Linked DNA regions of Homo sapiens: region 1 is linked to region 2. Evidence: fine-mapped expression QTL. A gene starts in region 2. The other region holds a variant in brackets. All regions are shown on one strand. Distances are from middle to middle. Region 1 overlaps ZNF829 (zinc finger protein 829). Region 2 holds the start of ZNF568 (zinc finger protein 568).

What was found.
Region 1: its variant is fine-mapped to the expression of ZNF568 in sigmoid colon (GTEx, PIP 0.95).

Annotation. Positions count from the first base shown.
Region 1 is chr19:36,892,239-36,897,623 of GRCh38, reverse strand. ZNF829 (zinc finger protein 829) reads left to right here. Exons shown (of 6, transcript NM_001037232.4): 6 at 5,153-5,385. It also overlaps a transcript of ZNF345 not described here. Among named protein-coding and RNA genes, the nearest start is that of ZNF829, 21 kb to the left of the region's middle. RefSeq lists an enhancer at 4,998-5,385. The variant G/A (reference allele first, on the strand shown) is at 2,315.
Region 2 is chr19:36,914,119-36,919,503 of GRCh38, reverse strand. ZNF568 (zinc finger protein 568) reads right to left here and starts at 3,172. Exons shown (of 7, transcript NM_198539.4): 1 at 2,913-3,172; 2 at 1,856-1,925. It overlaps ZNF829 (zinc finger protein 829), which reads left to right and starts at 3,213. Exons shown (of 6, transcript NM_001037232.4): 1 at 3,213-3,493; 2 at 4,253-4,374; 3 at 4,482-4,539. The coding sequence starts at 4,337. RefSeq lists enhancers at 3,088-3,467, 3,528-3,577.

The DNA.
Region 1 (5,385 bases), 22 kb after region 2:
AGGAAAAGCTTTCGGCTTTTCCCCATTCAGTATGGTGTTAGCTGTACGTTTGTCATATATGGTCTTTATTATGTTATGTTTTTTAATGCCTAATCGTTGAGAGGTTTTTATAATGAAGAGACGTTGAAGTTTATCAGATGTTTCTCTGCATCTATTGAGCTGATCATATGGTTTTTATCCCTCATCCTGTTGATCTGATACATCATGTTTATTGATTTGCTTATGTTGAGCCATCCTTGCACTTTTCAGGAAAAATCTCACTTAATCGTTGTATATTATCTTGTTGTTGTATTATTGGATTTCATTTGCTAGTATTTCATTGAGGGGTTTTGTGTCTATGTTCATGAGGGATATCACCTCTTTTTGTTGTTGTTGTTGTGTCCTTCTCTGGTTTTGGTATCAGGGTAATGCTGGCCTTGTAGAATGGATTAGGAAGAATTAACTTCTCTTCCATTTTTTGGAATAGTTTGAGAAAAACTGAGGTTAGTTATTTGTAATTTTGGTAGGATTCAGCAGTAAAGCCCTTTAGTCTTGGGCTTTTTTTGTTGGGAGACATTTTACTATTGCTTCAATCTCATTACTCGTTATTGGTCTGCTCAGGTTCTTCTGCTCTGTTTCTTCCTGGTTCAGTCTTGGTAGGTTTTCATGTATCCAGGAATTTTTCTGTTTCCTCTAGGTTATCTGATTTGTTAGCATATAGTTGCCTGTAGTAGTCTTTGATGATCTTTAATTTCTTAATTGACCCAATGGGCATTCATGAGCAAGCACATTGTTTAAATTTCCATTTATTTGTGTGGTTTACAAAGTTTTTGTTATTGATTTCTAGTTTTATTCTAGTGTAGTCTGAGAAGATACTTGATATGATTTCAATTTTTAAAAATTAGTTATAACTTGTCTTATGGCCTAACGTATGGTCTCTTCCTGGAGGATGTTCCATGTGCTGATAGGAACAATGTGTATTCTGCAGCTGTTGGATAAAATGTTCAGTTAGTGTCTGGTAGGTCCATTTGGTCTAATATCCAGTTTAAATCCAAAGCTGTTGATTTTCTATCTAGATGAACTGTCTAATGCTGAGAGTGGGATGTTCAAATCCCGTACTATTATTTTATGGGAGTCTACCTTTTTTTGTTGTTGTTTTTTTGAGACAGAGTCTAGTTCCGTCGCCCAGGCTGGAGTGCAGTGGCACAATATTGGCTCACTGCAACCTCTGCCTCCCAGGTTCAAGCAATTCTCCTGCCTCAGCCTCCTGAGTAGCTCGGATTACAGGTGCATGCCACCACGCCCAGCTAATTTTTTTTTCTTTCTTTTTTTTTTTTTGACAGTCTTGCTCTGTCACCCAAGCTGGAGTGCAGTGGTGCGAACCCGGCTCACTTCAGGCTCCGTCTCCCAGGTTCACACCATTCTCCTGCCTCAGCCTCCCGAGTAGGTGGGACTACAGGTGCCTGCCACCATGCCTGGCTAATTTTTTGTATTTTTAGTAGAGACGAGGTTTCACCATGTTAGCCAGGATGGTCTCAATCTCCTGACCTCGTGATCTGCCTGCCTCAGCCTCCCAAAGTGCTGGGATTACAGGCATGAGCCACCGCGCCTGGCCACACCCAGCTAATTTTTGTATTTTTAGTAGAGACAGGGTTTCGTCATGTTGGGAAGGCTGGTCTCGAACTCCTGACCTCAAGTGATCCTCCCGCCTTGGCCTCCCAAAGTGTTGGGATTACAGGCATGAGCCACCATGCCCAGCCCTATCTCTCTTTTTAGATCTAATAATATTTGCTTATATATCTGGGTGCTGCAGTGTTGAGTGCCTATAAATTTAGAACTTTATATCCTCTGGCTGAATTGACCCATTTATCATTATATAATGACCTTCTTTGCTTCTTTTGCAGTTTTTTACTTAATGTCTGTTTTATTTAAGTATGGCTACTCTCACTTGCTTTTGGTTTGTTTGTGTGCAGTATTTTTTTTTCATCTCTTCACTTTCAGTCTATGATTTTATATATAAAGTGAGTTTCTCACAGCCAGTATATAGGTGAGTCATATTTATTTTATCCATTCAACCAGACTGTATCTTTTAAGTGGGGAATTTGACTGTTTACATTCAAGGTTATTATTAATAGGTGAGGATTTATTCCTAATCTGTTAATTTTTTATGGTTGTTTTATATCCTTTTTCTTTCCTCTTATCATTTGGTTTGGTGGTTTTATGTAATGGTTACATCTGAGTCCTTTCTCTTTCCATTTGTGTATCTGCTCTACCAGTGAGCTTCTTATTTTCATTTGTTTAATGATGGTAGATATGTCTTTTACTTCCAGATGTA[G/A]GACACCCTTTGCCATTTTTGATCGGGCCACCCTAGTTGTGATACATTTTCTCTGGGAAAAACTTTCTCCTTCATTTTTGAAGGATGGCTTTGCTAGGTACAGTATTCTTGGCTGACAGTGTTTTTTTAGCACTTTGAATATATCATCCCATTCTTTCCTGGCATGGAAGGTTTCTGCCAAGGTATCTGCTACTAGTTCTGATGAGGGTTCCCTTGTATGTGACTTGACGCCTGAGGGTTCCCTTATATGTGACTTGATGCCTTTCTCTTGCTTTTTTTAGAATTCTCTGTCTTTGACTTTTGACAGTTTGACTGTAATGGGCCTTGGAAAACCTTTTTGGATTGAATCTATTTGGGCATCATTGAGCCTTCTGTATCAGGATGTCTATATTGCTTACAAGACTTGGAAAGTTTTCAGTTATTTTGTTAAATAGGTTTTTATGCCTTTGCCCATCTCTTCTCCTAGAATACCCAAAATTTGAATATTTGGTTGCTTTATGATGTCCCATATGTCATCTAAGCTTTTTTCAGTTTTAAAAATTATTATTTTTTACTTTTTCTTCCTGGATTCTTTTAAAAAACCCTGTCCTCAAGTTCAGAAATTCTTTCTTCTGCTTGATCTAGTCTATTGTTGAAGCTCTCAATTGTGTTTTTTATTTCATTCATTGAAATTTGTCAGTTTCAGGACTTCTGTTTGGTTCTTTTTCATGATATCTATCTGCTGAATTTCTCATTCAGATCATGAATTGTTTTTTCTGATTCTTTTGGTTTTTATCCATGTTCTATTGTTTCCCACTGAGCTTCTTTAATATCATTATTTTGAATTCTTTTTCAGGCACTTGATAGATTTCTTGTTTGTTGGAATCTGTTGCTGGAGCATTATTGTATTACTTTGGAGATGTCATGGTTCCATGCTTTTTCGTGTTTCTTTTATCCTTACATTGATATCTGTGTATTTCTTGTTATGGTCATTTTTTCCAATTTTATGGATTTGTTTTCATAAGGAAAACCTTTTTCCTGTAGATGTATTTATAGTGTTGGTTGGGTAGGTTGCTTTGGCTTTGTTATAGGTGGATGCAGTGGTATAATCTCCATATGATTTCTCTGGCTGCAATCAGTGTCAGCAGTGTCTGTGAGTTCCTCAGTGGCTTAGGGCTTGGTTGTTAGTGGAAGCTGTGATGAGGCTTTTCTCATTGTTAGCAGGGCCAACAATGGTGATAGGATGAGGGGTATGCCAGGTAAAGGGGAGATCCATGTGGGAAGGCCCTGAGGGGCAGGGAGAACTTGAGGTGCTTGAAGGACTGGGGCTTCTTGAGCAAGTGGAAGTGGAGTATAACACAAGGTTGTAGAGGTAGGCAAGAGCCTCATTATTGGAGTCTTCTTGGTAATTACCAAGGAGTTTAGATTTTCAGGAGGGCAAAGTGAGACCAAATATCACACCAGGTGCTGAATGGATTAGAGGGTGCTAGAACATACTGGGGAAACCATTAGGAGATTCCTGTAGTGGTCTAGGAAAGAGGGGATTCAGTAATTAAATGAGGACAACTTTAAGAGATTTTTAGGGACTCACCCAGACTAAGTTTGGCCAATGATTGTGTGGAGGGAATACTTAAGATAGTCTAGCTGGCTTTATTTTGATGTCTTCAAGCCATTTTATTTGCCCAATATCTGTTTTTGCTATGACATTTTTTCATAATAATAGCTACCAATACTGAGTGCTTACTTTATATCAGATTATTTATATACGTTATTCCTCATCTTTTTAGCAATCATAAGTTAAGTGTCAGTCCCATTTTAATAAACAAGGAAAAGAGGGCTCAGAGGTTGCCTTAAAGCATAGAACTGGGGCTCACTGTTTATATGTTGACATGGAGTTCCATTCTTCTCATAGAGTACATTTCATCCTATCTTAACTCTCTTGTGTCTCAAACTTGAGCCACCTTCCTTCTCAATCACTGCTATGACTTGAATTATTCATTTCTTTCTCCCAAGGTCAACATCACAGAATTCCAGAGCAAATTATTTTCAGTGAGTTCCTAGCCCATATCATGCTGTATGCACAGAAGAGATGTACCTGTCTACTCTTCCCACCAGTTGTGTTCAGCATATTAGATTTGTCGGAGGCTGGTGATTTGCCAGTATACCATTGCACAGTCACTGAACTCCACCCGCCCCCGACATTTAAACCTTTCAACACATTTGTTATTCTTAACAGTCCTTTCATGTAGGTCTGACAGTTATCTACGAATTGCAAAACATACAGTATCATACTCTGTGCATGTGAGCATATGTTTATGAACGTGTATATAATTAGAATATCTCACGCATGGTGCATGCCCTGGAGCAGAAGCGGCATCCTGCTGGCCTGTCCTCCTCCATGGCCCTCCAGCTTAACCCCTGCCTGGGCATGCTGATGGCCTTGCAGTCGGAGCTCCACAAGCTGTACGACGAGGAGACACAGAGCTGGGTCTCAGGCAGCGCCTGTGGGGGATCTGGGGTGGGGGCAAAAAAAATTTTTTTTTTTTAATTAGAATCTCTCTATAATATGGAGGATGGTGCTGAACACTGTGTATTCACCAAGGCTTAAGGTGACTCTGGTTCAGACCAAAATTTGAGGATCATAGAGGTCATCTACTTTCTGAATCCACATCCTCAGCTTCTTTTATTACCTCTCCTAATGTCTGTGCTTTTCTTGTCAGTTTTACAGATTGCCTCTCCACCTTTGAAAACTGTGTAATTTCTCAGATATTCTTTTCAGTTTAATTCTCCCATTTCTTTTTTAGAAGTTTTAACTTGCCCAGAATAGGAAAATTTATTTGCCTTTGTATTTTCTTTCAGATCTGGAATCAATGTGTGAGACCAAAATATTATCTCTAAAGAAGAGACATTTCAGTCAAGTAATAATTACCCGTGAAGACATGTCTACTTTTATTCAGCCCACATTTCTTATTCCACCTCAAAAAACTATGAGTGAAGAGAAACCATGGGAATGTAAGATATGTGGAAAGACCTTTAATCAAAACTCACAATTTATCCAACATCAGAGAATTCATTTTGGTGAAAAACACTAT
Region 2 (5,385 bases):
ATCTAATGCCTCATGATTTGAGGGACAACAGTTTCATCCTGAAACCATAACCCTCCCATCCCCCAGTCCCTGGAAAAATTGTCTTCCACAAAACCACTCCCTGGTGCCAAAAAGGCTGGGGACCACTGTCTTACAGGACCACTGTCATGTATGTATATAGTCCATACATATATGGCACATGACTATAATTTAGTTATATATACTGTCCACCCACCCCCCTCAACATAAACTCCATGAAAACAAGGACTTATTTTTGTCTGTTTTTGATATTCATAGTAGGTGCTCAAAAATATGCTGATAAAATGGTTCAGTCATTATCGAAAACACTATGACAATCAAAGATTAAAAACAGACATTACCACATGTATATATAAAAAACTGAAAGCAGGGACTCAGATAGTTGTATACCCATGTTTGTAGCAGTGTCACTTGCAATTGCCAAAAGGTAGAAGCAGCCCAAGTGTCCAATGATGAATAAATTGATAAACAAAATATTTATCCATATATGACATACTTATCATTCGGCCTTAAAAAAGGAGGAAATTCCAATACATGCTAACATGGATGAATCTTGAGGACGTTATGCTAAGTTAAATCAGGGTCACAAAAGCACAAACAACATATGATTCTGCTTATATGAAGTATTTAGAATAGTCAAATTCAGAGACAGAAAGTAGAATGGTAGATGCCATAGGCCGGGGGAAAGGGGGGTACAGAGTTATTGTTTGATAGGTACTGGGTTTCTGTTTTGCAAGAAGAAGAGTTCTCTGGCTGGATGGTGGTGACGGTACCATAACAATGTGAATGTACTTCATGCCACTGAACTGTACACTTATATATGGTTTAGATGGTAAATTCTATGTTGTGTATTTTACCACAATTAAATATACATGTGTGTATACATAGTTGGTCCTCCTTATCCACAGGTTCTGCATCCTCAGATTCAATCAGCCTCAGATAAAAAATACAGTTAGGCCTACTACAGTTGTGTCTGTACTGAACACGTACAGTACAGATTTTTTTCTCATTATTCCCTAAACAATAACGTGTAACAATGATTTACACAGCATTTACATTATATTAGGTATTACAAATAATCTAGAGATGATTTAATGTATAAAGAAGGATGTAGGGACTTGAGCATCTGTGGATTCTGGTATCCATGGGGGGTCTTGAAACCAACCCCTCCTGGATACGAACTGTATATAGAATAAATGAGCTACTACTACTAATTTGGGGATTTAAAACTAGAAGAGAATAGGCTGGGCATGGTGGCTTACGCCTGTAATCCCAGCACTTTGGGAGGCTGAGGTCGGCAAATCACGAGGTCAGGAGATCTACCATGGTGGCTAACATGGTGAAACCCTGTCTCTGCTAAAAATACAAAAAATCAGCCGGGCGTGGTGGCGCGTCTGTAGTCCCAGCTACTCGGGAGGCTGAGGCAGGAGAATCGCTTGAACTCGGGAGGCGGAGTTTGCAGTGAGCCGAGACCGTGCCACTGCACTCCAGCCTGGGTGACAGAGCGAGACTCCGTCTCAAAAAAACAAAACAAAACAACAACAACAACAAAAACTAGAAGAAAATAATATATGAGACAAGAATAACACAGAAATTGGTGGATATTTTGGAGTTCAAGTATTTTAAAGTCTTAAGGTTGAGTTTTGTTAAGCATGCATATTAAAAAAGGATAATAGCAGAAACCAACCTAGGGGAGAAAAAGGGATAAGGTGAATTTGCACAATAAAAAAAGATATATGTGCAACTATTATATGTCAATCAAAAATGTTTAAGGCGTAATAGAAAATAAAACATTTTTTATGAGCAATCATGATAAATGCCACTGAACTATACTCACCTATTAAAATAACAGTCAAACAAGATAAACGGATGTAAGCCCAGCAATATGCTCTTTACAAGACACAGATCTGAAACATAAAGACACAAGGGGGTTAGAAAATGAAATTCTTAAGAAATACAATAAAACTTGAAAAGCAATATTATCAGACAAAAGAGAACCCGGACTAAAAGGCATTCACCAGGATAAAGAGGTATGTTTCTTAAGGTGGTAGACTGGAATTTTAGTCCAATTCCTCACACCCTCTAATAGATTATTATTCATACTCTTTGCGAGGTAACTTTGCTCTCCAACTGTGGGCATAATTGATTTTAGGCTTAGCCATGTGACTTGCTCTGGTTGAGGCAATCTCTCTTGCGCTCTGGTGACCCATCAGGAGCAGAGCATGCCCTGGCAACAAATGTCCTTTTGGCCTGAGACCCTGAAAGAACACATGCGGCGCAGATCTTAACTCGTCACGCAGCCTATCCACTCAGCCAAGCCCCACCTAGATCAGCTGAACACAGTCAATGCGCAAGCCTGTGAACAGGAGAGTAAGGACTTGCTGTTGTATGGCATTGAGTTCAGGGGTGGTTTTTAGACATAATTATTATCATGGCAATAGCTAACTAACATACATAAAAGCAGCAAGTCATAAGATAATAATGAACCTGAAAAGTTCGCCAAGGAATAGTGGAAAATTACAAAGGGCCAAGGGCTACTAGGGTAAAAAAGACAGCAAAGAAGACTACAGAGGAGTGGCCAACAAGGAGGGAGGATCAGTAGAAAACAAATAAGTGTTTTTCAAGCCGTTACCAACTGTGCCAAATGCTACAGAAAAGCCAGCTCAAGACAAGAACTACTAGACATATTACAATCACGCACACTTCGCCACGTTCACACTCGCTACAGCCTTAATCATAATCACACACATATCACACATTTCATCATAATCCCGCGCAACCAAATATCACAATCACCCCATCAGATTATTCGTGCCGTCACACTCACACACACAACCACACACCCACACTAACTCCCATCACAGTTTTTTGTCCCATCAACTGCAACCACTCACCATTAGCGTACCCTGAGCACTCCCCACTGCCGCTACTCGGGACACTCTGGGCCTTAGAGGATCCGTGTCCCGTCAACCGCGAGTCCCTTGCTCGCCCCCTGCTGCGGGGACTCGGCAGCGTCACCTGCCGGAAACACCCGAATGTTCATCCCGCGCGCAGTTTCTGAGATGCTGGGTGAAGGCGACCCGCAGATAGGTCTGTGACAGACGCCTAAAGCGCCGAACCATCCCTCCGCGCCAGCGACGTTTCCGAGGACAACACCTCCCAGCAGGCCCCGCGGCCCCACTCAACTTCCGGCCAGAACACATCTGCTTTCCTGTGTGAGGGTGAGGCTTGGGCCGGGTTCCCCGGGAGGCTCATCTCCATTGCGCAGCGCTACGGCGACCCGCAACTCCGAGGCTCGGCTGGATGTTGAGAGTTGAGGGAGCAGCCGTTTCGGGTGGGCCCAGGCGAGGAGCTGACAGGAATCGGCGTGGGTCCCGCTCTGGACTACATTTCCCAGAGGGCCTGGTGGCCTGCCACTTTTCTCGCAGGAATTCGAACGTTTCGTCACTCCTGGCGGGACCCTTAGATCTGGGAGGTGAGATATTTTGGTCCCCAGGAGAACTGGCTCAGGTCTGCAAGTTCCCATCCGGGATGACTGGAAAGGGCTTAGGTGAGGATACCGAAGACCGATGGGGAGCTGGCGCCTTGGGCCCCTGCGGGCGGAGCGGCCTGAAAGGTGGAGGTTGTGTTTGGGAGGCCGAGGCAGGAGGATCACGAGGTCAAGAGATCGAGACCATCCTGGCCAACATGGTGAAACCCCATCTCTACTAAAAATACAAAAATTAGCTAGGCATGGTGGCGCGCGCCTGTAATCCCAGCTACTCGCAGGCTGAGGCAGGAGAATCACTTGAACCCGGGAGGCGGAGGTTGCAGTGAGCCGAGATCGCACCACTGCACTCCAGCCTGGCGACAGGGCAAGACTCTGTCCCCACCCCACCCCACCCCCCCAAAAAAAGAGGGGAGGTTGTGAAATTGTCTGGGAGATAATAACACTGCGGCTTATGTGCGGATATGGGATACCTGTCACTGTGGGGGTTGTGGCTGTGTGTTCCCGTGGTGATGTGTGATTGTGACTCTGCGACAGTGTGGGGTGCCTACGATTGTGCAGCTGTAATTGTGTGTTTCCTATGGTGTGTATGTGATTGTAACTGTGTTGCCGTGTGTGGCTCCTTGTGGGCAGGTGAGACGTGCATGTCGCCTTAAGTGTGACTGTCCCTAAATGTATGTGGCATTCTGTGTATGAGTATGGGGTCCTGTCAACTATGCGATTGTGACTCCAGAACTCTGTCTCTAGGAAACCTCTCTGAGGTCTGGTCAGATTCCAACCCTGGACAGCAGTGAACACAACCTTTCCCCTGAGCCACTGGAATTGGACAGAATGCCCCATTCTCCTCTGATCTCCATTCCTCATGTGTGGTGGGTAATGGGGCTGGGGAAGAACTCTTACTTGACTAATCTGGGTACCAAGAAAAACCTGGTGTCTCACAGTTACTCTTCCCTCTCCCAATTTTACCTTTCTCCAGGTGTCACCCAGAAGAGGAGGAAAGAATGCATGATGAACTTCTACAAGCAGTATCCAAGGTGTGTTGGGGTTTCCTCTTTTTCTTCTGAAAATTCTTGCTTAAAGGAATGTCATTTAATTATAGGTCCCTATAATTTTCCCATCACAGAAAAGGATGGTTGCTCCACTTATGCTTGCTGAATTTTCTTCTCAAATATTTATTCTGATTTAAAAATAAAAGGATGATTAATTTAGAGATCTCAAAAACACAGCATTACCAAGAAAAAATAAAATTTAGCCACTCAGATAACTAGGGTTAATATTTTAATGTATTTTCATTATTTGTCAAAAACCAAATTTTATTTCATTTACCATTTGATGTTCTACATTTTTGCAAAAAGAAGTGTCAGAAATATTCTCCCATGTCATCAAATGGTCTTGGGAAATACATTTTTGATGTTTGCAAAAACTATGATATACAAATCAGACATGCCAGACTTTTAAATCCTCATTTGAATATATATCTGTACTTATACCCGCCCACCCCCACAGGTTTGAATTTGGGTTTCCGTGATTAATAATAAAATTGAACATATTCCATATGTTTATTGGTTTTTAGTCATCTTTTGTGACATGTCAGTTCAAATCTTTACTCATTTTTCTCTTGGAATAGCTCTTATTGATTCGTATGAGTTATTTATGTAATCTGGATCTCAGTCCTTTATTGATTGTTTTCCTACTATTTGGACTATTTCATCATTTCCTGTAAGATGATTTTATGATAAGTTCTAATTTTTAAAAAGCTGAGTTTATCAATATTTTTTCTTTATGGTTAGTGCTTTTTGTATCTTTTTAAATAAATCCTTCCCTGTCCCAAGGTCATGCAGATACTCTCCTATATTTATGCTTAAAGCCATAAGTTTCAC